Linked DNA regions of Homo sapiens. The gene in region 7 interacts genetically with the main gene of each other region. Each region holds a gene or a part of one and is shown on either strand. Other genes may lie near its edges.

Region 1 (3,500 bases), on a different chromosome or scaffold from region 7:
ATTAGGAAGCCCTTTTTCTTTCTGGTCACAGCTGAGAAACTCATTTTGAGCCTTATCTTGGGAGCCCTCAACATAGTCTTTAATTAGAGCGTCTCTGCTGAGAAGGCACAGCATGGCTGGTGTCTGCTGTCAGTTATAGCAGAAGATAATATGAAATCATTTCTCAAAGTGAAGACTTTCAAAGCCTTGCTTCATTCATTAGATGAAAGAAGCTACTGTTCAGAACTAATTATAAGCGCCAAAATCTGAAGAAAATTGAATGGAACACCCTGGACTTTGATCTGAACTTCTGCATTCTAGAAAATTAAGATAATCTGATAACAGTGCAGAAAATATACTGACAAGTAACTCCATTGTTAACATGAATTGATCACCTATTTTAGGTCTAATTAGTTCTACTTATTATAGCATTTTTGGAATACCCTGTTTGGGATACTATATGATTTTGCCAATTATTGATTTTTTTCAATGTTTTTCGGGCCTTTATTTAATTCAGTAATAGTGTACCGGGGAAAATATACACACAAATGCTGATTTTTATTCCAGCTTTTCCAGAGCCTTGTGCCAAAGGAGAAATATGACAAAAATGATGTTATTTTAGAGGTGACAGCTGGAAGGACTACTGGAGGTCAGTAAACTTACTTTATTATTTAAATGATCTAAAAAGTCCTTGAATTTTACCTTATTTGATAACACTAACTTTAAAAGTCCATTAAATGTATTTAAATTTGGAAATAGTTATTCTTTATTTCCTAAAGGACTTAGTCTTAAGGGTGGCTTTCCGAAATTTGTCCTGACTAAATATTTTTCGTATTTTGTTTTAGGTGACATCTGCCAACAATTTACCCGAGAAATATTTGACATGTACCAGAATTATTCGTGCTATAAACACTGGCAATTTGAACTTCTGAATTATACACCAGCAGATTATGGTAGGCATATTGAGGAATTTGCCTGTAGGAGATACTGAAAATTATTTTACCTCTGATCTTGATTAGAACCATATTGTCCCATTTTTTTTTGAAACTTTTGGTGTATATCTACTAAACACTGTGGCATAGGCTCATCAATCACAGTGGCTTACTATTATAGCAGAGTTGTTAGCTAGGAGAAGACAGTAGAAAGGAGGGAAGCATTTGCTTAGGGAGAAATATGTGAATTAGAGAAAATTCCCCTGAGGAACTTAGATACGTATCTTGCCTCAAAATCATTTTTCTCTATTATTGAAAGCAAAGGTATATTAAGGTTTTTACTTTAAATAACTTTATAAAATAATATAAGTATTACTAATTAGACTAAGTGGCTAATGTGTTTGATTTTTATGAGAATGCGGAAAAAGTTAATCATTTGTCTTTATTTTCAAGAAACTTCTCTTTTGGCTGATAAAAATTTATAATGGCTGGGCACTATGGTTCACGCCTGTAATCCCAGCACTCTGGGAGGCCAAGATGGGTGGATCACCTGAGGTCAGGAGTTTGAGACCAGCCTGGCCAACATGGCAAAACCCTGACTGTACTAAAAATACAAAAATTAACTGGGCATGGTGGCACGTGCCTGTAGTCCCAAATACTCGAGAGGCTGAGGCAGGAGAATCGCTTGAACCCGGGATGGGGAGGTTGCAGTGAGCCAAGATCACACCAGTACACTCCAGCCTGGGCAACAAAGTGAGACTGTCTCAAAAAAAAAAAATGATACAACATAGACAAACAGTGCAGTTCTTTACCTTTAAATACTCAAGTATATTGATTGAAAACATGATAATAATTCTCTCATTTGTCTCATTCTTTTAATCCATCTGAAAGTTTTCCTCTGCTTGGTTACACAGTGATACATTGTAGTAGACAGAGGAGTCATCAGTAATAAACCACAAACTATCAAAGTGGGGAGAGAGGATTCATGTAAGTTGAGCAGTAAAGGGAAATAAGAACCAGCCTACAGCATAAGGAAGTTGTACCTGGTACAGATTTCAGATACAACCAGTGGTCAGGAAAGGGGATTATCCATGAGAGCAGAGAGAAGAAACAACCTGAGCAGCAGCATGCTGGTGGGAGAGGTCTTGGTGTGTGGGGAAGGGAGTGGTGGGGAGGCCAGTTTACCCATAGCTTGTCAGGGAAGTAATCGCTGAAGTAGGTTTGAGTGGATAGATTTTGAACAGCTTTGATTGATGGGCAATAGGAAGCTGTTGAAAATTGCATTAATAAGAATATGATTTGATAAGATATATATTTTAAGGAGATTATTTTGACAATAGTGATGGATGGATGGATGGATGGATGGAAAGGCTAGATTTAGTGCAGACTGCAAAGAGGTTATTAGAGTAATCCAGATATGACTAAGAGTTAGAATGGGGAGTAGAATTATCTGTCAGAGACCTGCAAAGGATGAATAGGCATAATTTGCTAAGTAACTAGATGTGAGAGGGGCTGTTGTTTATCCAGTATGTCTTGTGTGCACAACTTCACACCCTTGTGAAATAGATATTACTAATCTCATTTTACAGATGAGGATCTAGGCTCAGAGAGTAAGTAACTAATCCAAGACCACACAATAAGTAATGGCAATCCTGGGATTACATTTTAGTCTGTTTGATCCAGAGCTGCACTATATCCCATTATTCTATTCTGACACAAAGGAGATGAGCCACAGGGAGTCTAATCTTTCTAGCTGAGAAGACTGTGATACTCATTCATGCCATTGAATGGAATAGAAGTTGGAAGGCAGAAACCATTTGGAAAGAATAATGATGAATGGTTTTTGAATCATTAAGTTTGAGGTTATAGTGAGCATCCACTTAGAAATAGTCAGTAAATAGGCTGGGCACAGTGGCTCACGCCTATAATCCCAGCACTTCGGGAGACAGTTCGAGACCAGCCTGACCAACATGGTAAAACCCCGTCTGTACTAACAATACAAAAATTAGCTGGGTGTGGTGGTGCACACCTGTAATCTCAGCTACTCGGGAGGCTGAGGCACGAGAATCATTTGAACCCAGGAGGCACGGGTTGCAGTGAGTCGAGATCACACCACTGCACTCAGCCTGGGCGATAGAGTAAGACTCAGTCTCAAAAAAAAAAAAAAATTTGGAGTAAATATTGAAATTGAGTAACCAGATCTTTGGTGAGACAACAGAACTCAGGCAAGCTATTTGATACCTGTCAGCTCAGAGATAATGTCTGATACTGAGAGAATAAGTGAGGGAGAGTCTATAGAGAGAGAGCATTCAGGGCAACAAGCTTTGGAGAATGGCCATGTTTAGAAGGATAGACCAGTTAGCAAAATAAAAAGAGGATTCAAGATAATCAGAAAAAGGATGAGGACAGTAAAATATTATGGAAGCAAAAGAGGAGAGAGTTTCAAGGAGAATGTAAGAAGAAACAGCAGCATTATGAAAAGGAGAGTAGTAGAAAATATCCTGAGTGAACTCTGATAGGTGTATTTCGAATGAGACTTTCAAGAATAAAAGGGAGATAACCTCAATAACAGGAAGAGAGATTCTGTTC
Region 2 (4,202 bases), on a different chromosome or scaffold from region 7:
ACTTGCTGTGGACCTGCCAGCCATCCCCCCACCCTCCAAGCAACCTTGACCTATTCCAGACAGTTGGGTGGGAGGCAACACAAACAGCAGCAGCCAGGGGCAGTGGCAGGTAGATTTTATTGGCCTGGGACACACAGGGGATACCCTCACCCACGATGGGGTGGGGGGTGTGGTGTTGAAGATATAATCTGATGGTCACTTGTGGTAGAATCGCGGGTTCTGGCTGTGTTGGATGAAGGGGAGCCGAGGGCCAGGTTGGCTGGTAGCTGCAAAGCCCGACTGGTGGTGGTGATGAAAAGAGGGCTTTGTCACTGGGCATACTCTCCCTTCCACTTAATACCCTACTGATAACCACCCCCAAAGAGGAAGGAAAAACCAGATGATGTGGGCCACCTGTCCTACCTAATCCTGCTTTTCCGGATCCCTAGTGTAGGGATTCTGACAGGTAAATTCTATTACCATTCTTACCTTTCCTGCTGGCTGCATCTGCACAGGGAGCTGGGGGGAAGCAAGGAGTCCAGGGGCTGGATGCAGAGCCTGGGGGTGCATGGGGCGCAGAGAGGACTGCAGAGAACAGAGTCAGGGCCTGAGGCATACTGAAGCTCCCCTTAACATATCCCTAACCCTGACCTCCCAAGGTGCCATACTCACTGAGTCGGAGAAGCCAGTCTGCTGGTTAGCATGTTCCATCTGCTTTTGCAAGGACAGGGCACCACCAGGCTGGAGGAAACCTAGGTGGGGAAGAGGGGCATGTGAGATGAGAATGAAACAGGGAGGGGAGGACCTGAGAGCTAGAGCTCCTGCATGGGATGTTATCACCTGTCTGAGTGGGCTGAAAGTGGCCATGCACAGCATAGGGCTGTGGCTGTGGCTGAGATAGGTACTGCACTGCAGGGAATGCCGAAGGAGCTGAGAAAGGAAAAGACAGAGCCATTAAAATCTTTTACTGAATGGCATTCCTCCTTTGACCTTGAGGAAGGCCAAGCCCCATCCCTCCTATTACTCACCTCTGAGCTGCTGACTAGGACTATAAGCTGGCTGTGTGGGCCCATAGTGAGGTGGGGGCTGAGCAGTCCCATAGGCACCACCAGGACTGCCTTGGAATTGTCCATGCTCTGGTGTCCCTGCAAAAGCAGCTGCTGAGCCCACGTAGTGCCGGGTCTAAGGAAGGAGAATGAGAACTCGCCTACAAACTCCTTGAAAGCTGAAACCCAGTGACTTGTGTGTATCTGTATGCCCCGTTTCCCCCTAAACTTAAGTGCTTGATATGTTTGTGACTTGAATACTGGTGGCAAGGATGCATGGATGGAAGTACTAGGGGCTAGGCATCCAATCCTACTCTCACCGTAAGCACTTGGGGTCCAAACATTTGTTTGGCTCTGTCAGCTGCCATGAGGGTGCCTGGGCGATTGTGTCCTCCAGGGCTCCCTAGAAAGGGAGAAGGGCTTCATGATGCTGAAATGGGAGGCTGTGACCTCCAAGAAGGCCGGTTCCATCTGGTGGTTTCTTTAGTCCTCACCCTGCATGCTGAGGAGATGAGTTCCTGTGTGAACAGTCAGGCTCTGCTGGTATGCAGCTGATGTTAGGGTGGTCAGGTCACTGGAGTGAAAGGAAGACAGGTCAAAGTCAAGGACAGATGCCTTCTCTTTTGCCATTAAACACTGGTTCTTTTACTACCTGATCCCAGTTCCACTTGGCCCCCATTTCAGTTTTTAGCACTCTGATCCCACCTCTGTTCCTTTCGCCTCCGTTTTTCTTCCTCATGTAAAACTTTCTTGAGCTGCAGGAAAAGCTGGTGCTTCTCTTCCTGTAGAGCCAAAAGCTTCTCCTCCAACTTCAGAATCTGGGATGGGGTGGGAAAAGAAGATGAAGGCAGGGAGAGTCAAACGAAGAAATCAAAGCTGGGAAAGTTCAAGGGACTGCTTACTTGTTCCTTGGTCTCCTCTAATGACATTCTCTCTTCCATCTCCTTTTTCTTCCTTCTCTCCTGTTCTTCCTTCATCTTCTGTTCCATCATCTTATCCACCTCTTCTTCCTCTGGAGAATCAGGCAGAATGAAGAAGAGGCAGGGTAGTGAAAACAATTCCAACGTTACAGATTGAAGACCAGCAAAACCCAGTCATCCCAACACGCCTGTATGCTCTTTGCCTCGAGGGGACAAGCTCCCCATCGCGGCAATAGGGAACGGAAAGGCTTTATCAGGTGCTCTCCAAGGTCCTTCCCATCTCAAGGGTTCTGGAGCGTGGAACAGGACGCTTAAATCCCACCACAACGGGGCTATTCCTTCCCTCCTCTGCGCTCGGCAGCGGGCGCGCTGGTTGGCCGGTGGGTTGAGGCCAGCCTTGAGGTACAGGAGCCATTCTGGGCCGTGCGTCCCCCTGCTATGGCCCCGGCTCACCCTGCCGCTTGCGCTCCCGCTCCATCATAATGTGCCGGTGCAGCGCCCTGGCCATGGCGTTGGAAAGCTTGGGGCGCTCCAGGAGTGCGGGCATGGTGCTGCCGTGGGCGCTCGGGCCGTGGGCGCCCGGCTGTCTCTGACTGCCAGACCTCAGACGGGGCCTGCGGGGAGGCGGGCGCTCAGAGGGGGCCGCGCCCGGCCCAGGCGGAAGCCCGTCCGCCCGGCCCGCTCGCCGCCCCGGTCACGTGTCCCAGGAGCCCGCCACCCGGCCGGGACCGCAGCCCCAGTCCCACCGCGCGCGGGCGGCGCCGGGGTCCCCGGCTCGCTGCTGCCGCTCCCTGCCCAGCCAGCGCGGACGACTGCCCTTCCTACCCGCCTTCTCTGCGCTTTCTCAGCGGCTCCGACGCGCCCTGGCCCCTGCGTCACATCCGGCGGCCCGGCCGAGTCCTTCCGGAGTCACGGCGGCGGCCGACCTCACAGGTGAAAGAAGGCGGAAGCGCGCTGCGACGGGTGCCCGCGGCGTACAAACCCCGTCGCCGGGAACGTGAGCGACGACGGCTGCAGACTGGCCTTGGCATCCTCAGCTCTCTTTAATTTCGCGGGCCCACCTGGTGGCACCCCAGGGGACGCGGGCTCCGGAGAGGGGCGCGCGAGAGAGAGGCCGAGGCGGAGGCTCTGAGACGGTGTTTATTGGCTCCTTAGAAATCAGAGTCAGTAACAACTGTACAGAGGCCCCCATCTTCCGTGCGCCCACCCTTCCCCACTCCCGCCCGGTGGCCCCGGAAAAAGCAGCTTCATGTGGGCACAGGGAGAGACTCCTCTGGGATTCACAGTAACCAGAAACAAAAACGGAAATAAATTAAGTGATGTGGGGTAGGGGAGTAAAAGGGAGTCATGTTCCCCAAATCAGTGCATGAAGAGGGGTACCAGGGCCTGGAGCTGGGCTCCCACGACTCCTCCCATCAGACGGAGTGCTGGGCCTCCGGACATGGAGCTGTGCCACTTGCCACCTACATCTGAGAGCCTGCCTACATGCTCCTGCGCGGCTGCCAAGCTCCAGCACCTGCGCATGCCACGAGTCACGGGAATGAGGTGGAGGCAGTCGCCACTCAGAGTCCATGGGCCCGCGGCCCGACTGTGCTTGTAGTAGTGGTGTCTCACCCCTCATTCCACCCGTACCAGCAGGGCACAGAGGAGTGTGGCCCCCTTCTCCTTAGTGACCCACTCAAGTTCGGCTGGACTGAAGTGAGGGTCAGGAGGTTCTCCAAGGGCAGCGGAAGGGGGTCCCGGGGTGTAGGAGCCAGGGCGCACACACACCTGGAACGCCACCTGAGCCTGGTGCGTCCGCTGGGATTTGGGGTCCCGGAATCTGTCAGACAAGAAAAAATAAGGGAGTGAAGCCTCTCGCCCCATCACCTCCCCCTTGCAAAGTCTGTTCCAACCACACAAGCCTTGCTGTACCTAGGAAATACTCCCACCTTATGGGAACTTCGCTCTAGCTGTTCTACCTGAAATGCTCTTCCTCCCAAAGCCTGCTCAGCTACACCCTTCACTTCCTTCTTCAAGCCTTTGCTCGAATCTCTCCCACCTTCTTAGGATGTCCACACCAACCGCACTGCTGTCTCCGCCCCATTCTTTCTCTGTTTCCATAGTCCTTACTTATTACCTTTAAAAATACTAAATACTGGCGGGGCGCGGTGGCTCACGCCTGTCCCAGCCCTTTGGGAGGCCGAGGTGGGCGGATCACGAGGTCAGGAGATCGAGACCATCCTGGCCAACATGGCGAAACCCCGTCTCTACTAAA
Region 3 (3,089 bases), on a different chromosome or scaffold from region 7:
AGGGCACCCTCAGACTGATGATTATCCTGCTGCAGGGTCTCTCCCAAGAGACAGGGAAGGCTGTCATGCCAGTGCTGATGAATAAGCATCAGACCAAATGTGACATGTGACACCTATTAAAGAAGGCCCCCGGCCACACGCAGTGGCTCAAACCTGTAATCCCAGCACGTTGGGAGGCCGAGGCAGGCAGATCACTTGAGGTCGGGAGATCGAGACCAGCCTGACCAGCATGGAGAAATCCTGTCTCTACTAAAAATACAAAATTAGCTGCGTGTGGTGGCACATACCTGTAATTTCAGCTACTTGGGAGGCTGAGGCAGAAGAATCGCTTGAACCCGGGAGACAGAGGTTGTAGTGGGCCATGATTGCACCATTGCACTCCAGCCTGGGCAACAAGAGCGAAACTCTCAAAAAATAAAATTAAAAAAATAAAGAAGGCCCTTTACCCAGCGCCACTCACTGAGTGCCACTTGCTTCAGACACAAGAAAGGCAGACACAATTCTGACCCTCCAAACATGTCAGCTCTCACGGCAGCTGGCCCACCTGGCAACAGCCCCAGTCAGTGAAAGAGGGTTCTTTCCTTTTTATTTTTGCAATATCCCATACAAAAGCAATAGAAACGTAACAGTCTTAACAAGAAGTTTACAATTGAATATTTGAACAGAAAATCTGTACACATTATCATTTACAGCAATTTTACATGGTAAATTAACTGATTGTTTTAAAATGTTCTTTCTAAATCGCTCCACTCTGCTGCCCTAACTCTTGGAGTATTCTAAAGAGTCTAACTAGTGCTATTTACAAGTACCAAATTAAGACCATATAACTTACATAAAACTCATTAGTTTAATAGCTCAATTTAACAATGTCTGACTTCAGAATGCTGTTATGACATATTGATAAAAGGCCAAAAATTAAGTTTCCATAAAGATATTAAAGGTGTCTGAGAATACTTTGATGCCTATAAAAGTAGCTGACTCTCAATTGGTCCCATGGATTACATGGTTAAATCCAAAACAGTCCACCTGACAAGCAATAACTGAAGATGCCTGTGGAAAACCAGTTATGTAGACGTGTCAGCTTACCCTGGAGGACAACAGGGATTACGCAATTAAGCTCGCTGGAAGAGAGCTTCAAGTACTTTCTTGGACTTAGCTCCATTTACAATTTAAAACATGCAAAATATACTCACTATACATAAAATTAATGTTTCTTAAGAAAGTAAGGCAAAAATAATTCAGCATGAGCTAATGGACTGCTAACAGAGAAACCACCAGGTACAAGTGCACACACATGCTTGGTGCCTGGCCAGCCTTCCACCTAGTCGGGGAGGAGCTGTTTCTCTTCCTGGCCGCCAGGGGGCAGTTAGCTCATGGCTGAGAAGTCTCTCAAGGGTTCAGTTAAACAAGCTTCCAAATCAAACTCATCCTCCACTTGACTGTCCATGTGTCTCACCTTGGTGGGTGTGCCAGAGTACACATCCTGGAAAACAGAAGCATGGCTCGGTTGACATTCATCTCACCCTGAAAACAGGGGCCCCTTCCTACACCCCACTCCTTATGTGGTAAATCATGTGATGTAATGCACAGCAAGGTGTACACTTCACGTGCAACTGAGACAGATTTTAATAATAACACTGCAAAGAGAAACCACATGTACCATTTACAAGACACTGACGTTTAGATGTGCACACATCCCATTGTGCTGGGATTACAGGAAGGAGTCACTAGTCACTGTGCCTGGCCATGTACATAGTTTATAAGCACAGAAAGAATTGTAAAAGCCTAGACAAAACCACAAATAGTGGCTGTCTCAGGACAGGAGACAGTATTTAAACTGATACATTTAAAAACGGTTTTCTTTTCTCTTGAGACAGAGTCTCACTCTGTCACACAGGGTGGAGGGCAGTGGTACAATTTCGGCTCATTGCCACCTCTGCCTCCCGGGTTCAAGTGATTCTCCTGCCTCAGCCTCCTGAGTAGCTGGGATTACATGCCTGCATGACCACACCCAGCTAGTTTTTGTATTTTTAGTAGAGACTGGGTTTCACTATGTTGGGCAGGCTGGTCTTGAACTCCTGACTTCAGGTGATCTGCCTGCCTCAGCCTCCCAAAGTGCTGGGATCACAGGCGTGAGCCACCACGCGCAGCACATGGTTTTCTTTCTTTTTTTTTTTTTGAGACAGAGTCTTGCTCTGTTGCCCAGGCTGGAGTGCAATGGCGCCATCTCAGCTCACTGCAACCTCCACCTCCTGGGTTCAAGCTATTCTCCCACCTCAGCCTCCTGAGTAGCACGGACTACAGGCACCCACCATCATACCTGGCTATTATTTGTATTTTTGTAGAAACAGGGTTTCACCATGTTGGCCAGGCTAGTCTTGAATTCCTGACTTCAGGTGATCCGCCTGCCTTGGCCTCCCAAGGTGCTGGGATTACAGGCGTGAGCCACCGTGCCCAGTCCAAACTTCAGTTTATAAGGCAGCATGTGTTATTAACAATTCACCTGCAACCCCCAAGCTGAAAGACTTATCCAAAGTACTTACAAAGTCATCCTGAGAGCTGGTCTGGGGCTCGGAGCTGCTTTCTGCAGATTCAAGGTCTACAGGGTGTCTGTTAAACAAGATCCAACATGTGCGTCAGGCACTAACTTAACAAAGCCAGGAGACGGGGCGCTACAGACAAACCCCATCCATATGGTACAGCCACAACACTGACAGTGTGCCCGAGGCTCCCTGAGGGGTCAGCTTTCAGTGACTATTTGACAGACTTAATCCCAGCCCAATCAATCCAGCAAAGAGAAAGCGGATGGCAATGAGAAGCAACAAAAAGATCTGCTGGGCTCACCACACAAGCATCCTTGGAAACAGAAACACTCATAAGCCCAATTTTTGAGGGGGAGAAATGAGCACTGTGATGAACATACTATGCATTATCACTAATTTTTCCAAGTTTCTACTCAGAGAATGGGACAATGGTGTCACACTGGGGGAAAAAACCCAAATGACATCTGTCAGGACAAACTGGTAAAGCCACTTACAATCGTTTCAAACATGCCAGTCTCTAAAAAATTTCCCAGCACAGAGGAGAAA
Region 4 (3,500 bases), on a different chromosome or scaffold from region 7:
TGAAGCTGCCTCTGTGCACATTACACCCATGAACTTAGACCAGTTGCCTTTATGTATGATCGTATTTATACTGAGAAGTTACTGTGTTTTTTGACTTTCTTTTCTATTTGCTACATATTAGTTCGGTCTAAACGTTTGGTCTTCTGGTCTCCATAGTTCTACATTGGTTAAATGCAACTCACTTCTGGGAGTAGTGGTGACATTCAACTAGTAGGCTTTTTAATAAACTACAGAAGTTCATTACTCTCATGTAAGGAAGGAAAACTAATGTAACTTTCGTTAAGTATGAAAAGCGTTGGATATCCTTATAGTTCTTTAGAGTTAAGGGTGAGATGGGTTTAGAAAGTGGCCAGGCACAAGTTATTTTAAAATAAAAAATCTTTGGCTGTTTGTTCCAATATATTAATAGTTTTCCCTTTTTTACAGCAACGCAGTGTGCATATTTTATCTGGTTCTCCGAGCTCTGGACACACTGGAAGATGACATGACCATCAGTGTGGAAAAGAAGGTCCCGCTGTTACACAACTTTCACTCTTTCCTTTACCAACCAGACTGGCGGTTCATGGAGAGCAAGGAGAAGGATCGCCAGGTGCTGGAGGACTTCCCAACGGTGAGTGGGGTTACGCATCTTGTCTACGGACTGTTGTGTTCATAATTGCTAACGTGGTTGTCCGGTAGCCTCCATACATGTGGAGAAAGGTTAAATAAGCATTCTGAGGGCAGCATAATGTGAGGGTTAAAAACTCCGGTAGCCAAGACTCTGAAGCCAGGCTGCCTGGGTTGGAATCTCAAATCTCCCACTTACTAAACTGTTGGTTACTTACAAAGACTCTCTGTGCCTCAGTTTCTTCATCTGTAAAATAGGGGTAATAATAACACCTACCTCATGGTATTCTGAGGATTCAAAGAATTAACGTAGGTAATGCTCTTAGAATGTTAGCTACTGCTGTTATTATCAGTATTGGAAGTCCAGTGTTTCTTCCTGTGGGAAGACGCAGTCAAATTTTAGTGTTGTGAAAGATTCTCAGGCTAGCTCACAAAAGCCTGCCGACTGTATGATGCAGCCTACCTGTAACACTGCTGGCCTCTTGACTACCCGGAGCCTGGTAGCATGGGACTGCTGCTCACGATGGGCAGCAGCCTGGCATGGGGGCGGTGTCTGTTGGCAGCTAGGGCGAGCCTCTGCCACTTCACCTGTGATCCTGGGCAAGTTCCTTATCTGCTTTGTGTCTCCGTCTCCTCGTTTGTAAAGTTAGAGCTGAGAGGATTAATTTCGCACATATAAAGTACTTAGTGCCTGGTACAGGGTAAGTATTCTGTAAGTATTAGCTATTTGGTCTATTTTGTTGGAGTAAAGTGGGTTATAGTTAAAATCCTAAGATTTTTAAAGTCCCTCAAGTTCATGTGGACATCTGCCTAGGTCCTACTATCCTAGAATTCGCATGTCTTATCACACAAATAACTGATTCTTCCATATCTTATAAATAAAGGTTTGATTTAGCAAAGTCACATGTTGTGTAATAGCTCGAAGAAGCCCTTTTTGTCCACAGTTGCCAGAGCTTTTGGAGAACAGTCCTTATGTTATTGAAACAAACCTAATCTGTAGCTGAGTTGGGAGGGAGCTAAGTGGACAGAGAGTCCTCCACCCAAACAAAAGAATCTTTGATTCTTGGGCATAATGGGAGCAATATTTAAAAAAAAAAAAAAAAAAAAAAAAAGGAATGTTTGGGGAAGACTCTTGCGGTGCAAAGGCTGTTTCAGATTGCTGAGATCAGACCTTAAGTACCAAAGCCCAAATATAGTACAACATAATACAAATGAGAAGAAAATAGCTGAAGAATAATTCGAGTTTATACAGTACAATTCAAGAGAAGAAAGAAAATTTATGACGACTAGCTGGGTGAGAATTAGAACTGTAACCCTGGGAAGGTCCTGGTGATTTGACTCTCACAGGACACCTGATGACCAGAGGATGGGTTTCCTTTGATGGGAAATCTGTGGCGATTCATTGATGGGCCTCTGAATTCTGCTGAAGCAGAGGAAGTAGTAATACCCCATTTATAATGGAAGTGCATTCTCACTTAAAAACAACTAATATTATTCTAGCTGGACCTAGCCTCTAGAAACAGCCAAATTACATTTGACTTGAGTGGATTCATAATAATTAAAAAATTTCTGGGGCATGGGATAAATGTGTTAGGTATTGCTAAGTCAAGGCAGCCCTATCCCCTCAGCAGAAGTGAGGGAATATGAAAGTGTGTGAATGCTAACATAATTTTGGGGAATATCGCCGTCAGATTTCCAGATGATATTCCAACATGTTTGTGAAACTTCAGTGTCTTCCTGTGTTCATACAGTGTTCCAGTGGAAAAATAATGCTTAGTTCTGGAAGGTTTCAGATGTGAACACTGAACTCATCGTTTTCTTTTTTGGGTAGTAGAGTTAGAGATTCCATCCTCTTGAAAGCACAGTTGCCCCGGGAAGAGTAAAAGGGAGCAGAAGGCGTAAGCCAGGCACGGCTGTTTTCACTGTTGTTCACCTTTTGTATCCTTACGAATATGAAGATGTACTAAGTTGTGTGTTTTGCGTGCATATATAATTTTAAGCTACTTGAGTTGTAGGTCCCTCCAGTCTGTGATTCAGTTTGAGATGGGACTGTATGGGAATTAACAGTGCCTTGTCTTCTTAAGGAGTGATTTGTGTATGTGCTGATATAGCTCAGTATGTCTTTGAAACCAGTTGTCTGGGGCTAGGCCTGCAATCAGCTTTTGGCTAAGAGGTCCCAGGATGGAACAAGTAGTGTGAAAGAGGACTGATACCTTGGCCTCACACACAGTACTGCTCTTAGACTGGGGCAAGTGAAACTCCTCACTTCAGAGTGCCCCATTCTAGGCCCCCTCACTCCCAAAGGGGTGAGGGATCACTGGGGCCATGGGAATGTGCTTGTTCAGCTCTCGTGGGCTCTCCTTCTGTACCACGTTCTGGACATCTGGAGTTCCTTGCCCCAAATCCCTGAGCCCACGTCTGCGTCCGCACAGTCTATTTCCTAAGGTCAGTCCATCTCCTCCAGGTGGGAACGTGCCACCATTGACTGTGCCCTTGGGCCTGAGTGATGGCCAAGGGCTGTGTTGGGGAGTGTTGTGGATGGATCCTGGCACCGAGGGCTGGGATATCCTCTCAAATGAATGTGAGGTGCCTCCCAGTGCTGGAGAGAGCGGGATTCAGGAAGCAGTGGAAGGGAAGAGCCTGGGATATGGGGATCAGCTGTCTGTGCCCTGCTGCATTCTGGAATAAAACTCTGAGGGACTAAGAATTCTAAATTCAAACCTGAATCAACCAGGTTGTTACAAAGATAAGTTTGTCAGTGCAGGAGGATACAATATATTTTACTTAAGTTACTAGCTCGATTGATCATTTTTAAATTTTTAGCTACATATAGTATGTGGGCCTCCATTTGTCCTCTTATCCCAGGCCTTGCAGAATTTAGGAATAAGCCTCAA
Region 5 (4,083 bases), on a different chromosome or scaffold from region 7:
CTTGGGGGCGCCCTCCTTCAGGATGGCCACCTGGACCCTGTGCACGCTGGAGTGGGCTCACAGAGGACACACTGCCCTGTGTGTATTGGGCCATGGGAGCTGGACACGTCCCAGGGGTGTGTGCTCACTGCCACAGCTCATGGTGCCCTGCACACTTGCCTGACCCCAAACCCTGATGCAGATGGCAGGCTGGGGAATGTCAGCCCACCCAACTCACCCCAGAGCCCCTGGTCAACTTGGAGCCAAAGCTGTGGCCTAGACCCCTGGACTCCACAGCGTGCCCTCCTCTGGGGCAGGGTTGAGAGAAGCAAATCCCCTGTGCTGGCCCCTGCTTCCTGCTGGCCCCAGGACCCTGGGGGACAGAGGACCAGGAAGCAAGAGAAATGGGTGGGGACATGGCTTTTCCCGATACTTTTTGAAGCCCCTCTTCACTGGGCCCCCTGAGATACACCTTGACCCCCACACAGTCCAGGGGACCACCTGGGCATCTGCACTGATTCAGATCCTCCAGGCCAGGACTCCCCCACACCCATTCCCAGCTTCTACCGGGTTCCTCTTGTCATCACCCACCCGCTGTGGCTACCAGACTCCCTGTGCTTTTCTCTGGGTGTTCTCCGCGGCTCTGTCTTCTTTCCATCTCCCCTGCCTCCTCTTTTTGGCGATCTCTGTCATTCACATTTTCCATGTCTTTCCCGTCCTTTCCTCCTCCGTTTCTGTCTGTCTCTATCTGCATCTCTTTCTCTCTAGGGCTCTCTGTCGGCGCCCACTTCTCTGGCTCTCGCGTCCCTCCTCCCGCCTCCCCAGGCCCCTCTCTGGACCGTCACTGGGACGGGATCCTCCGAGGCCTGCCAGACGAGAGCTAACCCCACCACTCCGGGTGCCCAGTTGGTGTGCGCAAAAGGAGATAGCATCTCCAGACCCGGCCTGCCCCGCGCCTTGCAAGGCTGAGGACAGCGCCACTGCTCCTGCAGGAAGCGCCGGGCGCAGACACAAACCCGGAGCTCCCCACGCGTGCCCGCGCCCCGGAGCCTCCCTGCCGCCGCCCTCCGCGGTCCCCTTCATTATGCGCCGCCTTTAATGGGCGTTTGTCAGCTCGACTTCCCCGCAAGTTGTTTTCACGGACATCAGTCATCGGCGGCGGCCCCATTGTGCAGGGGGATTGATGGGGAGCGGGAGGGGGTGACAGGGCCTGGGGCGGCCTCCTCAAGGCCTCGGTCTATAATTTTCGGAGGCATAATTGGTCTGGGGGAGGGGGCGGGGGAGGGGCGGGTAGGGGACCTTTCAGAGCCAGGAGGGCTTTCGGGGGCGTGGGGCGCGCTGCGGAGCGGAGCCGCGGCTCGACGGCGGTGCGCTGGCGGCGAGTGTATGCAGACGGCGCCCGGCCCGAACCCCGAGCCCCGCGGGGCTCCCCACCCGCCGGCCTCCCGCCCCTCCCGCGCCTCCGCCTGGGGACCACGTCGGCCTTTTGTTGGCGAACCGTCCTTTCTTTCAGCGCTTTGCGCAGCAACGGAAATTTCATTGCTCCTGGGTGGAAATTAAAGGGACTCGCGTTCCCTCTCTCCCTCTCCCTCTCCCACTCTCCCTCTCTTTCTCTCTCTCGCCCACCCTTCCCCCTTCTTCCCCCACCTTTCCCGCGAAGCCGGAGTCAGCATCTCCAGGCGCGGGATCCCGCTCCGAGCACCTCGCAGCTGTCCGGCTGCCGCCCCTTCCATGGGCGCCGCGCTCGCCTGCAGCCGCCGCCGCCGCGGGGCGGGCGCGATGCCACGATGGGCCTAATCTGGCTGCTACTGCTCAGCCTGCTGGAGCCCGGCTGGCCCGCAGCGGGCCCTGGGGCGCGGTTGCGGCGCGATGCGGGCGGCCGTGGCGGCGTCTACGAGCACCTTGGCGGGGCGCCCCGGCGCCGCAAGCTCTACTGCGCCACGAAGTACCACCTCCAGCTGCACCCGAGCGGCCGCGTCAACGGCAGCCTGGAGAACAGCGCCTACAGTGAGTGCCGGACGCTGCGGGGCCCCGGGGGAAGCGGCGCCGGGAGGGGTCGGGCCCGGGAGAAGGCGCGCTGCGGGGCCCCGCGGGGGAGGCGGCGCCGGGGAGGGGTCTGGCCCGGGAGAAGGCATGGTGCGCCCGGGGTGTCCGGGAAAAGACCGTCTGCCTCCCGCTGCCAGAAGGGGAATGCCAGGGTGCCCTCCTCAACCTACACGTCCGGGAGAAGAGCGCGCGCTGGGGTTCGAGCAGAACTCGGGGGCATGGGCGTTCACGTCCGAAGAGGGCGCCGGCGGCTGTCAGAGTCCGTCCCCGGTCCGGCCCGCTGGTCTGAGGGGACGCGAGCTAGGCGACCCCGGGGCTCCAGGCTCTGCTGCTTTGGGCAGCTCTGACAAGTTTAAGCCCTTTGAATGTGTCGGAGAAAAGGAGCCGGACAAGGCATTTATCATCCTCTTTATTATTTTGACGACTTCTCCTCCTCCTGCCGACCCCTGGACGCCCCGCCGTCCCCTCCGCCCTCCCCGCTCGCGGCTGCCCAGGTGGCCGCCCCCGCTGCTGCCTCTGCGCGGAGGACTCTTGCCCTGCGGAGCTCGGTTCCCTGGCCGCGGCCGCCACCGACAGTTATTCCCCGCGCTGGAATCTGCACCTCCCCCGCCTCCGCCCTGGCCGCACAGCGACAGGAGGGTGGAGGCCCTCGCCGTCGGGACGTGCGGATCACGAGCGCGGAACGGTGTCCGCCCGGGCCTGGGGGTGCAGACACACACACTCCGGCCCCCGCACGCAGGACCCGCGGCCCGGGCTGCGCTCACCGCGGGAGTCTGCCGGACTACACGGTTGGGCTCCTCTGGTCACAGGGACCTGAGGCCCGCGCCGAGCCCTTTGAGGAGCAGGATAGCGGAGCTCAGGGCCCGGGAGGACCGCGTGGGGAGCGTGGGAGGGCAGTCAAGACCACAGCTGTCCTCGGGTGCTCCGCGCGGCGCTCGGCTCCGGCCCCGGGCGCAGGAAGCGGTTCCGCCGCTTGAAGGTGGCGGCGGCGGCCTCAGCAAACCGCGGCTTCCTCCAGGAAAGCCGCAGCCCTGAGAGGGCGTCCTGGGGACATGCGCCTCCGGAGCCGCACGGTGGGCACCAGCTGTCACCAGGGGGTCCGAGTGCGCGGAATTCGTCTCACTAAGACACTCCGGTTCTCTCCAAAGCCAGGCTCCCCCTCGGAGTCGCACAGCATCCAAACTTCTTGGTGTAGGCTGCTCACGGGGAGGGGAGGGCGCGCGCCCGCAGCCGCCCCTGTCCTGCGTCGAGACTCGTGCTTCGCTGGTCCCCGGTCAGGCACCGCCGATGCCGCCCAGCCTGCGCACTGGGAAGGCGGGAGGCTCGCAGCCTGCACCACAGCACCCCTGGGCTGGAGCAAAAGCCCGGTGGTGACCGCGTCTGTGCTCGGACCGCGTGCCAGGAGGGCGCTCCTGAGAGGCATGCCTTGGAGAGGGTGCAGGCAGTCGCCCCAATCCCCTCGCAGCCTCTATTGGGAGACAATGACCCCAACCCGTCCTTTGATGTAGTCCCCCGCCCCCAGCCCCCACCACAGCACTCGTGTATCCAGAAGGAAAGGCGGGAGGGGAGATTTAAACTTTCTTATCCCTGGGGAGTGGGTGAGACCCGTCCAGCTTCCCTCTGCGGGCTCCAGGGTCTAAACTGGCTTCCTGCCCTTCCAGGTCCCCCGGCGAGTACAATGATCTCCCGCCAGGTCTATTGCCAGCATGATCTGGGTGGCAGGCACCCTGGCTGTGTTATTGCCAGTGGTTTATATTATCAGCCTGGCTCATCAGGGCCCAGCTTTCCCGCTGGCAGGCACAGGCATTGGGGACCGTGCAGTCCCAGAGCTCAGACTCCCATGGCTGCCGCCAGGGCTTGATTTCCCGCTCAAGCACATGTGCAGGGGCCTGACAGTCACCCAGCCATAGTGGTCCCCACTTGCTTGTCTGTCGGATGATGATGGCAGCTGGCAAGGTGTTGTGAGGCTCGAATGAAAGCCAGGGTGCAGGCAGCGTCAGCAGGTGGGAATGTTAATTTCATTGTTACCCTCCCAAGTTTGAATGAAGAGAAGCCTTC
Region 6 (3,500 bases), on a different chromosome or scaffold from region 7:
GAACGTGGCCTCCTCTACTTCCTGTGACCACAATGGGGGCTGCATTGACACTGAGACCAAGAAGAACCAGTGGACATGAGGCTTGGAATGTGACTGTGAAGAGAAGGGAGGAACCCCACGGGGCTGCACTTAGGCAGGAGGTCTTAGAGAGTAGTGGAAGTGTGCCCTGAAGAAGAGCCAACAAAGGAAGGCCTGCTGTCTTTGGGCAGGGAGTCCTTGCTGATCAAGCCATGTATAGCTAGAATCTTGAGGAGTCCATGGCGAAACTTCTGGCCAATGAAGGCGTAGATGAGGGGGTTGAGGCAGCTGTGAAGGATGCCCAGAATCTCGGTGGCATCCAGAGCCCGGTCGATGTGATTGCGGCGCTCACAGGTCTCCTGGATCACCTGGGTCCTCATGAGGGTGTCTGCCAGCAGGACCAGGTTGTAGGGCAGCCAGCAGAGCAGGAAGATGAGGACGACAGCAAAGATGACCCGCATGGCCCGGTGCTTCTGCCCCATGTGGGCCTTAAACAGCGTACGCAGGGTGAATCCGTAGCAGAACAGCATGATCAGCAGTGGCACGATGAAGCCAAAGGACTGGGGCAGGATCCGTAACAGCATCCGCCAGTTTGCTGTATTGTTGCCCATGTCCTCATAGCAGGCTGGGCTAACATTGGATGAGTAGACGGTCCTTCGGAAAAGTAAGACAGGCAGGGCCAGGAGCAAGGACAGACCCCAGATGCTGAGACATATGAATTTGACCAAGTAGCGCTTCTGGGTCAGTGTGCGTGTGGCATGGACAATGGCCAGGTAACGGTCCACACTGATGCAGGCCAGTAGCAGGATGCCACTATAGAAGTTGACTTCCTTCAGGAGTGAGACCACCTTGCACAGGAATGTGCCAAAAATCCAGCCATTCACCTTGGAGGCGGCCCAGATGGGCAAGGTCAGGGCAAAGAGTAGGTCGGCCAAGGCTAGGTTCAGCAGGTAGACATCAGTGACGGAGCGGCCGACCCTGCTGTATAAGATGACCAGCATCACGAGGGAGTTTCCCAGCAGGCTCAGCAGGAATACCAGGGCATAGATAATGACCACAAAATACTTGTTGATTTCCAGGGATTCTGGTTCACATGGGGCGGCATCTAGTAGAAAAGGGGGCAGGGTAGAGCTGTAACTGTAATTACTAAGATCTTCACCTTTCCAGAAATCTTCAAAGCTGTCACTCTCCATGTTAAAATCTTCCATTTTTGAGGTAAACTTAAATCCTGACCTATAGAAGAGAGATGAAGGTTACTGCATAATAAATTCCCCATATTCTTGCCCATCCACTCAAGAAACTGGGATAGGATTCTTTGTGTTGGCTTGAGTATTACAATGTAGTAATTTTTCCCTTCAAATTTGTAAGTGGTAGCTCTTAGGTTATGAGATAAATTTGGTGATAAATGGTACATTTTATGAGAGGACCATAGTTCTCTTTAATATAAGAGAGAAATTCTTAGCATTTCTTTTAGCATCGCCATCACCTAAAACTTTGTAGAAAGTTCTCTTTGGATAATCCCCACAGAACCCTCAATACTACCTGGATCCTTCAGTGGCGAGCATCTTTGGCTATCAAGGCTGGGTTTAATGTTCAGAAATGTGAGATGTGAGATGTCACTCAGTTCTTTTTTTTTTGTCTTAGAGATGGGGACTTGTTATGTTGCTCAGGATGGTCTTAAACTCCTGACCTTAAGTAATTCTCCTGCCTCTGTCTCCCAAAGTGCTGGGAATATAGGCATGAGCCACTGCACTCAGCCCCATTCAGTTTTTAATCAGGGGATTAAGCAGGAACTCCAAATGGGCTATACCCTCAGAAAAGATCATGGTTTGACTATAAAGCTGAGACATGAATCCCTTTGTTCAATTTTCTAAAAGTTATTTTAAAAGATGTATTCTGGAAAATGGTTTGAACAATTGTGGCATGGAGTTTTGGAAGGCTCGAGCTAGCAGAGTCTTCAGTTAATTAGTAAGGCCCAGCGTTTCTCTTTTGGGTAGAAGGAGACCCGCTTTGGGAATGTCTGTGTAGTTTGGAAAAGTATATTAAAAACAATAAGCAAGCGGGCTGCCTGATTCTCCCTGTGGGTGGAAACGTAACAGGTTATTTGGGGAGCTCTGGGCAGCCATGTGCCACCATGCGGGATAAGCAGACACAGCCAGTCTGCTACCCAATAAGAGAGGGGCAGCAGGAAGCAGAGAAGACAGGGTTTGCACTACCCTTGCTTGGTGGCTTTCCAGCCCTGCTGGAGACCCTTCCTGTCCTGCATGTGTGTGCCTCCATCTAGCCTTGACTCCCCTGTTCCTCTCAGATTTAGTCTAGCTCCTGGGGCTCTGCCCTTGCCACAGGGACAGCACAGATCCTGCTCTGGGGAAGCCTGGGTGTGGAGGGTGGGCTGCAGTTATTCAAAAATATTATCCCAGTGGTGGCTCACACCTGTAATCCCAGCACTTTGGGAGGCTGAGGTGGCAGATCACTTGAGGTCAGGAGTTTGAGAGCAGCCTGGCTAACATGGTGAAACACTGTCTCTACTAATAATACAAAAATTAGCCAGGTATGGTGACGTGCACCTGTAATCCCAGCTACTTGGGAGGCTGAGGCACAAGAATTGCTTGAACCCAGGAGGTGGAGGTTGCAGTGAGCCGAAATCACATCACTGCACTCCAGCCTGGGCAACAGAGCGAGACTCTGCCTCAAAAAAAAAAAAAAAAAAAAAAAAAAATCCCAGTTTCTCAAAGCAGTCAACTAAAGCAATCCAGCTCCCTAATTAGCTTCTTTCTGAACCACAAAATAGATCACCCTCCGGCCATTGCCTTAGAGTAAGGGATGACCACCCTACCACCAACCATGTCCAAGTCCGTAATCTACCCCCAAAATGGAACCCAGTGTGAGAGAAAAACCAGGAAGTTAAAGGTCCCAGAACCCACTTCACACTCACCAGGCTGGGCACACTCAGAAAAAGATGCCCAAGAACAATGTGGGTGAGGAAGTGGAAAAGTCAGAACTCTCCCACATTGCAGGTGGGAATGTAAGATGGTGCAGCTGCTTTGGAAAACAGCTTAGCAGTTGCTCAAAAAAGTTAAACATAGAGTTACCACATGAACCAGCAAACCCCAACCTAGGTATACACCCAAGAGAATTGAAAGCTAATGTTCATAGTAGCATTCATCATTAAGGCCAAAAAGTGGAAACAAACCAAATATCCATCAACTGATGAACGGACAGACAAATTGAGGAACAGTCATGAGCAACTGAAAGACTTTTTGGTCAATGACACATCACAAATACCACAGTGGTCCCATAAGATTATAATACTGTATTTTTAGTGTTCTTTTCCTATGTTTATATATAAGAATACCATTGTGTTATAATTACCTACAGTATTTAGTACAGTAACATGCTGAGTAGGTTTGTAGCCTAGGAGCAGTACTCTACCATATAGCCCATGTGTGTAGTAGGCTATAGCATCGTATACTCTACCATGT
Region 7 (3,500 bases):
ATCTCTGAAGACTAACACCTCCAGGAATAAAGGGGGAGGGAGGAGGGTGGGGGAGAAGGCAGCTCTTACTGGTACTTGAAGGGCAGCCGTCTGGATAGGGGTGGTGAGGGCGGTGAGGGCCGGGTTCTGGACCGCAGCCATAACAGGGCTGCCATCTGTCTTCAGTGTGGTCAAAACAAGGGAATCTGTCTTGATGATCTGAGGCTGGACCAGGACCTGGATGAAGAAGGAAGAAAAGTAAAAGGATGATAGCATTATCCTTCTGTTATGCATTCCTTTCTTACTGCATAGACCTTCCAAGAAAGAATGAGAAATGATATAATTTTTATGAAATTGAGAATAAAAAAATGAACAGGAAATTTCATAGAGGCCATTTCAAAAGCCGGCTATTTTGTACAGCCTGAATACCGGGTTCAGGTGGAGAAAGAGGGGCTAGCTAATGAGGGTCCTGGCTTTTTTTTTTTTTTTTTTTTTTTGCTGAGACAGGGTTGCTCTCTGTTGCCCAGGCTGGAGTGCAGTGGTGCAATCTCAGCTCACTGCAGCCTTGACCTCCCGGGCTCAAGTGATCCTGCTGCCTCAGCCTCCTGAGTAGCTGGGACTACAGGTGTGTGCCACCATGCCTGGCTAATTGTTTGTATTTTTTTGTAGAGACAGGGTTTCACCATGTTGCCCAGGCTGGTCCTGAACTTTTGGGTTCAAGAAATCCACCTGCCTCAGCCTCCCAAAGTGCTGAGATTACAGGCGTGAGCCATGGTGCTCAGCCAGGTCATGGGTTTTTAGGTTGAAAGACTTTCAAGAGGGTGGTGCCAGTGGCCCAGCAGGAGCAGAGCAGAGATGGGTAGGGTGGATGGCAGAGAGGAGAGAAAAGACTCAGGAAAGCCAGACACATGGCTGAGAAGCAAAAATAATAAACCTGATTTTTTTAAGATAAATTGTTAGTAAGAAAATATAGGCCAGATGTGGTGGCTCATGCTTGTAATCCCAGCACTTTGGGAGACCAAGGCAGGTGGATCATGAGGTCAGGAGTTTGAGACCAGCCTAACCAACATGGTGAAACCCTGTCTCTACTAAAAATACAAAAATTAGCTGGGCGTGATGGCGCGTGCCTGGAATCCCAGCTACTCGGGAGGCCGAGGCAGGAGAATTGCTTGAACCCAGGAGGCTGAGGTTGCACAGTGAGCCGAGATCGTGCCACTGCACTCCAGCCTGGGCGACAGAGCAAGACTCTCAAAAAAAAAAAAAGAAAAAAGAGGATATAGTCCACGATGATATATAACATAAAGACGTTTTTTGTGATTATAAAAATAATACACGTCCCCCAGCTGGGCACAGTGGCTCCCACCTGTAGTCTCAGCACTTTGGGAGGCCGAGATCGATGCACTGTTTGAGGCCAGGAGTTCAAAACCAGCCTGGCCAACCTGGAGAAACCCCATCTCTACTAAAAATACAAAAAACTAGCCAGGTGCAGTGGCAGGTGCTTGTAATCCCAGCTACTTGGGAGGCTGAGGCAGGAGAATCGCTTGAACCTGGTAGGCGGGGGTTGCAGGGAGCCAAGATCACGCCACTGCACTCCAACCTGGGCAACAAGAGCAAAACTGTCTCCAAAAAAAAAAAATTAAAAAAAAGATTAATAATACATGCCCCCCCTCCCCCCAACCCAATATATGTTCAGGATCCACAGCAGAAAATATGGAGAACAGAAAACTATGAAAGCCAAGGGCAGTGGCTCACGTCTGTAATCCCAGCACTTTGGGAGGCCGAGGCGGGTGGATCACAAGGTCAGAAGTTCAAGCCAGCCTGGCCAACATCCCGTCTCTACTAAAAATATAAAAATTAGCCGGGTGTGGTGGCACATGCCTGTAGTCCCAGCTACTCGGGAGGCTGAAGCAGCAGAACTGCTTGAACCCGGGAGGCGGAGGTTATAGTGAGCTGAGACCACACCACTCCACTCCAGCTTGGGCAACAGAATGAGACTCCGTCTCAAAACAACAACAACAACAAAAAAACACAACACAAAACTATGAAAAAGAAAATTATCTGGGAAATACCAATTTAGCACATTTCTTTCCAGTTTTATGCCCATTACATGTGTACGTAAGTGACTGCACCAGCCTTTCCTGAGTGCCAGTGTCTATCTACAGATATGGACTCAGCCAGGTCACTATACGCTGCTCACAGGTGCATCCTGGCGCCCTACAAGCTGCTTTGTGTACACTCTGGTTGGTCCTTCTTAGTATGTAGACCACATCTTCAACCAAGGACCAGTTAACAGCCCCAACCAGTGCCTCCCTGAATCCTTTCCAGCCACTTACCGGGACCTGCTGCACCTGTGGCGCAGCAACTGTCTGCACCGTAGCCGGGGCAAGGGTCTGCAGCGTGCCATTGGCCGTTTGTGTCAGCACCCGCTGGGCCTGTACTGTCTGCACCTGCTGCTGAATGGTGACCGGCTGTACCTGGGAGGATGTCACCAGGCTTTGGACTTGAGGCTGAAGGACTTGGGAGAAGAGGAGAAAGAAGGCACAGAGATGAGGAATGCATTCTGTCACTGCAGCTGCAGCAGAAACCTGAGGATGGAGTATCTCATAATGATTCCAACTCCCCACCTACTGCTGAAGATGATGTGCACAGCCATTTACAAGGTGGCTTAGACAACAAGAACATCCCATAAGGGCTGCATCAATTTCTGAGGGAACGAGTACAAATTGTTTTATTACTCTGGGTGCCAGGGTGGGGGAAAGGGAAGCTAATCAGCAAATGACTGCACCCAGCAAGGGAGTTAACAGATGTTGAGAATCAACAACTCCCTGGGGCTTCATTTTCTTCCATCCTTTCTGGACGGCAAGTGCACTTTGGGAGGACTGTCTCAGCTTTTTGCCTTTACATTCCCCCACCTGTCCCAATTCTTGAACTCCATTGAAGAACTATAAGATTCTTTGAAATTCAAAGCAATACTAATCTTACCCTGGGCTCCCCACAGAGTCAGAGGGAAATATGATGAAAAGGCACTGGGATGCAGCACATCACAGAAAGAACAGGCCCCTTTCAGTCATCCATTCCCTCAACACATACTAAGGGCCCAGCATGAGGCTTGCTACTTGAAGCTGCTGCACCTATATTAAAAGTCATATTCATCACCATAGTGGATGCTCAGATGTTTGCTGAATGAATAGTTCTCAACTGTGGCAGCTGAGATCTGGCTGCCGCCTAGCCAATTTCAAGCCTTATTCAAGTCTCCACCACTAGTTATCAGAATGGCCCTGTGTCTACTATGCTTGCTGGATTTTTTTTTTTCTTTTTAAGATGGGAGTCTCGCTCTGTTGCCTAGGCTGGAGTGCAGTGGCACGATCTCTGCTCACTGCAAGCTCTGCCTCCCGGGTTCACGCCATTCTCCTGCCTCAGCCTCCCGAGTAGCTGGGACTACAGGCGCCCGCCACCATGCCCGGCTAATTTTTTCTATTTTTTAGTAGAGATGGGGTTTCACTGAGTTAGCCAGGATGGTC

Evidence for each region.
Region 1: changes in SREBF2 (region 7) and MTRF1 together harm fitness more than expected from each alone (negative genetic interaction), as found in Homo sapiens cells (one large-scale study listed by BioGRID).
Region 2: changes in SREBF2 (region 7) and GPS2 together harm fitness more than expected from each alone (negative genetic interaction), as found in Homo sapiens cells (one large-scale study listed by BioGRID).
Region 3: changes in SREBF2 (region 7) and SLBP together harm fitness more than expected from each alone (negative genetic interaction), as found in Homo sapiens cells (one large-scale study listed by BioGRID).
Region 4: changes in SREBF2 (region 7) and FDFT1 together harm fitness less than expected from each alone (positive genetic interaction), as found in Homo sapiens cells (one large-scale study listed by BioGRID).
Region 5: changes in SREBF2 (region 7) and FGF3 together harm fitness more than expected from each alone (negative genetic interaction), as found in Homo sapiens cells (one large-scale study listed by BioGRID).
Region 6: changes in SREBF2 (region 7) and CXCR2 together harm fitness less than expected from each alone (positive genetic interaction), as found in Homo sapiens cells (one large-scale study listed by BioGRID).

What each region holds. Positions count from the first base shown.
Region 1 is NC_000013.11:41,250,077-41,253,576, reverse strand, and holds part of MTRF1 (peptide chain release factor 1, mitochondrial), read left to right. Parts: intron 1-546; coding exon 547-628; intron 629-824; coding exon 825-932; intron 933-3,500. UniProt on the Homo sapiens protein: Mitochondrial peptide chain release factor that directs the termination of translation in response to the peptide chain non-canonical stop codons AGG and AGA.
Region 2 is NC_000017.11:7,312,561-7,316,762, forward strand, and holds GPS2 (G protein pathway suppressor 2), read right to left. Parts: upstream 2,801-4,202; 5' UTR 2,771-2,800; intron 2,560-2,770; 5' UTR 2,493-2,559; coding exon 2,399-2,492; intron 2,038-2,398; coding exon 1,928-2,037; intron 1,844-1,927; coding exon 1,731-1,843; intron 1,600-1,730; coding exon 1,520-1,599; intron 1,429-1,519; coding exon 1,346-1,428; intron 1,162-1,345; coding exon 1,008-1,161; intron 910-1,007; coding exon 820-909; intron 732-819; coding exon 652-731; intron 565-651; coding exon 469-564; intron 280-468; coding exon 196-279; 3' UTR 101-195; downstream 1-100. Other genes in the region: NEURL4 (neuralized-like protein 4), read right to left, coding at 3,563-3,767. UniProt on the Homo sapiens protein: Key regulator of inflammation, lipid metabolism and mitochondrion homeostasis that acts by inhibiting the activity of the ubiquitin-conjugating enzyme UBE2N/Ubc13, thereby inhibiting 'Lys-63'-linked ubiquitination.
Region 3 is NC_000004.12:1,692,231-1,695,319, forward strand, and holds the end of SLBP (histone RNA hairpin-binding protein), read right to left. Parts: intron 2,611-3,089; coding exon 2,544-2,610; intron 1,484-2,543; coding exon 1,367-1,483; 3' UTR 501-1,366; downstream 1-500. UniProt on the Homo sapiens protein: RNA-binding protein involved in the histone pre-mRNA processing.
Region 4 is NC_000008.11:11,809,241-11,812,740, forward strand, and holds part of FDFT1 (squalene synthase), read left to right. Parts: exon of another isoform or gene 1-250; intron 251-426; coding exon 427-610; intron 611-3,500. UniProt on the Homo sapiens protein: Catalyzes the condensation of 2 farnesyl pyrophosphate (FPP) moieties to form squalene. Proceeds in two distinct steps.
Region 5 is NC_000011.10:69,816,617-69,820,699, reverse strand, and holds the start of FGF3 (fibroblast growth factor 3 precursor), read left to right. Parts: upstream 1-1,283; 5' UTR 1,284-1,766; coding exon 1,767-1,986; exon of another isoform or gene 1,987-1,992; intron 1,993-4,083. UniProt on the Homo sapiens protein: Plays an important role in the regulation of embryonic development, cell proliferation, and cell differentiation. Required for normal ear development.
Region 6 is NC_000002.12:218,132,528-218,136,027, reverse strand, and holds part of CXCR2 (C-X-C chemokine receptor type 2), read right to left. Parts: intron 1,252-3,500; 5' UTR 1,227-1,251; coding exon 144-1,226; 3' UTR 1-143. UniProt on the Homo sapiens protein: Receptor for interleukin-8 which is a powerful neutrophil chemotactic factor. Binding of IL-8 to the receptor causes activation of neutrophils. This response is mediated via a G-protein that activates a phosphatidylinositol-calcium second messenger system.
Region 7 is NC_000022.11:41,867,605-41,871,104, reverse strand, and holds part of SREBF2 (sterol regulatory element-binding protein 2), read right to left. Parts: intron 2,495-3,500; coding exon 2,313-2,494; intron 217-2,312; coding exon 70-216; intron 1-69.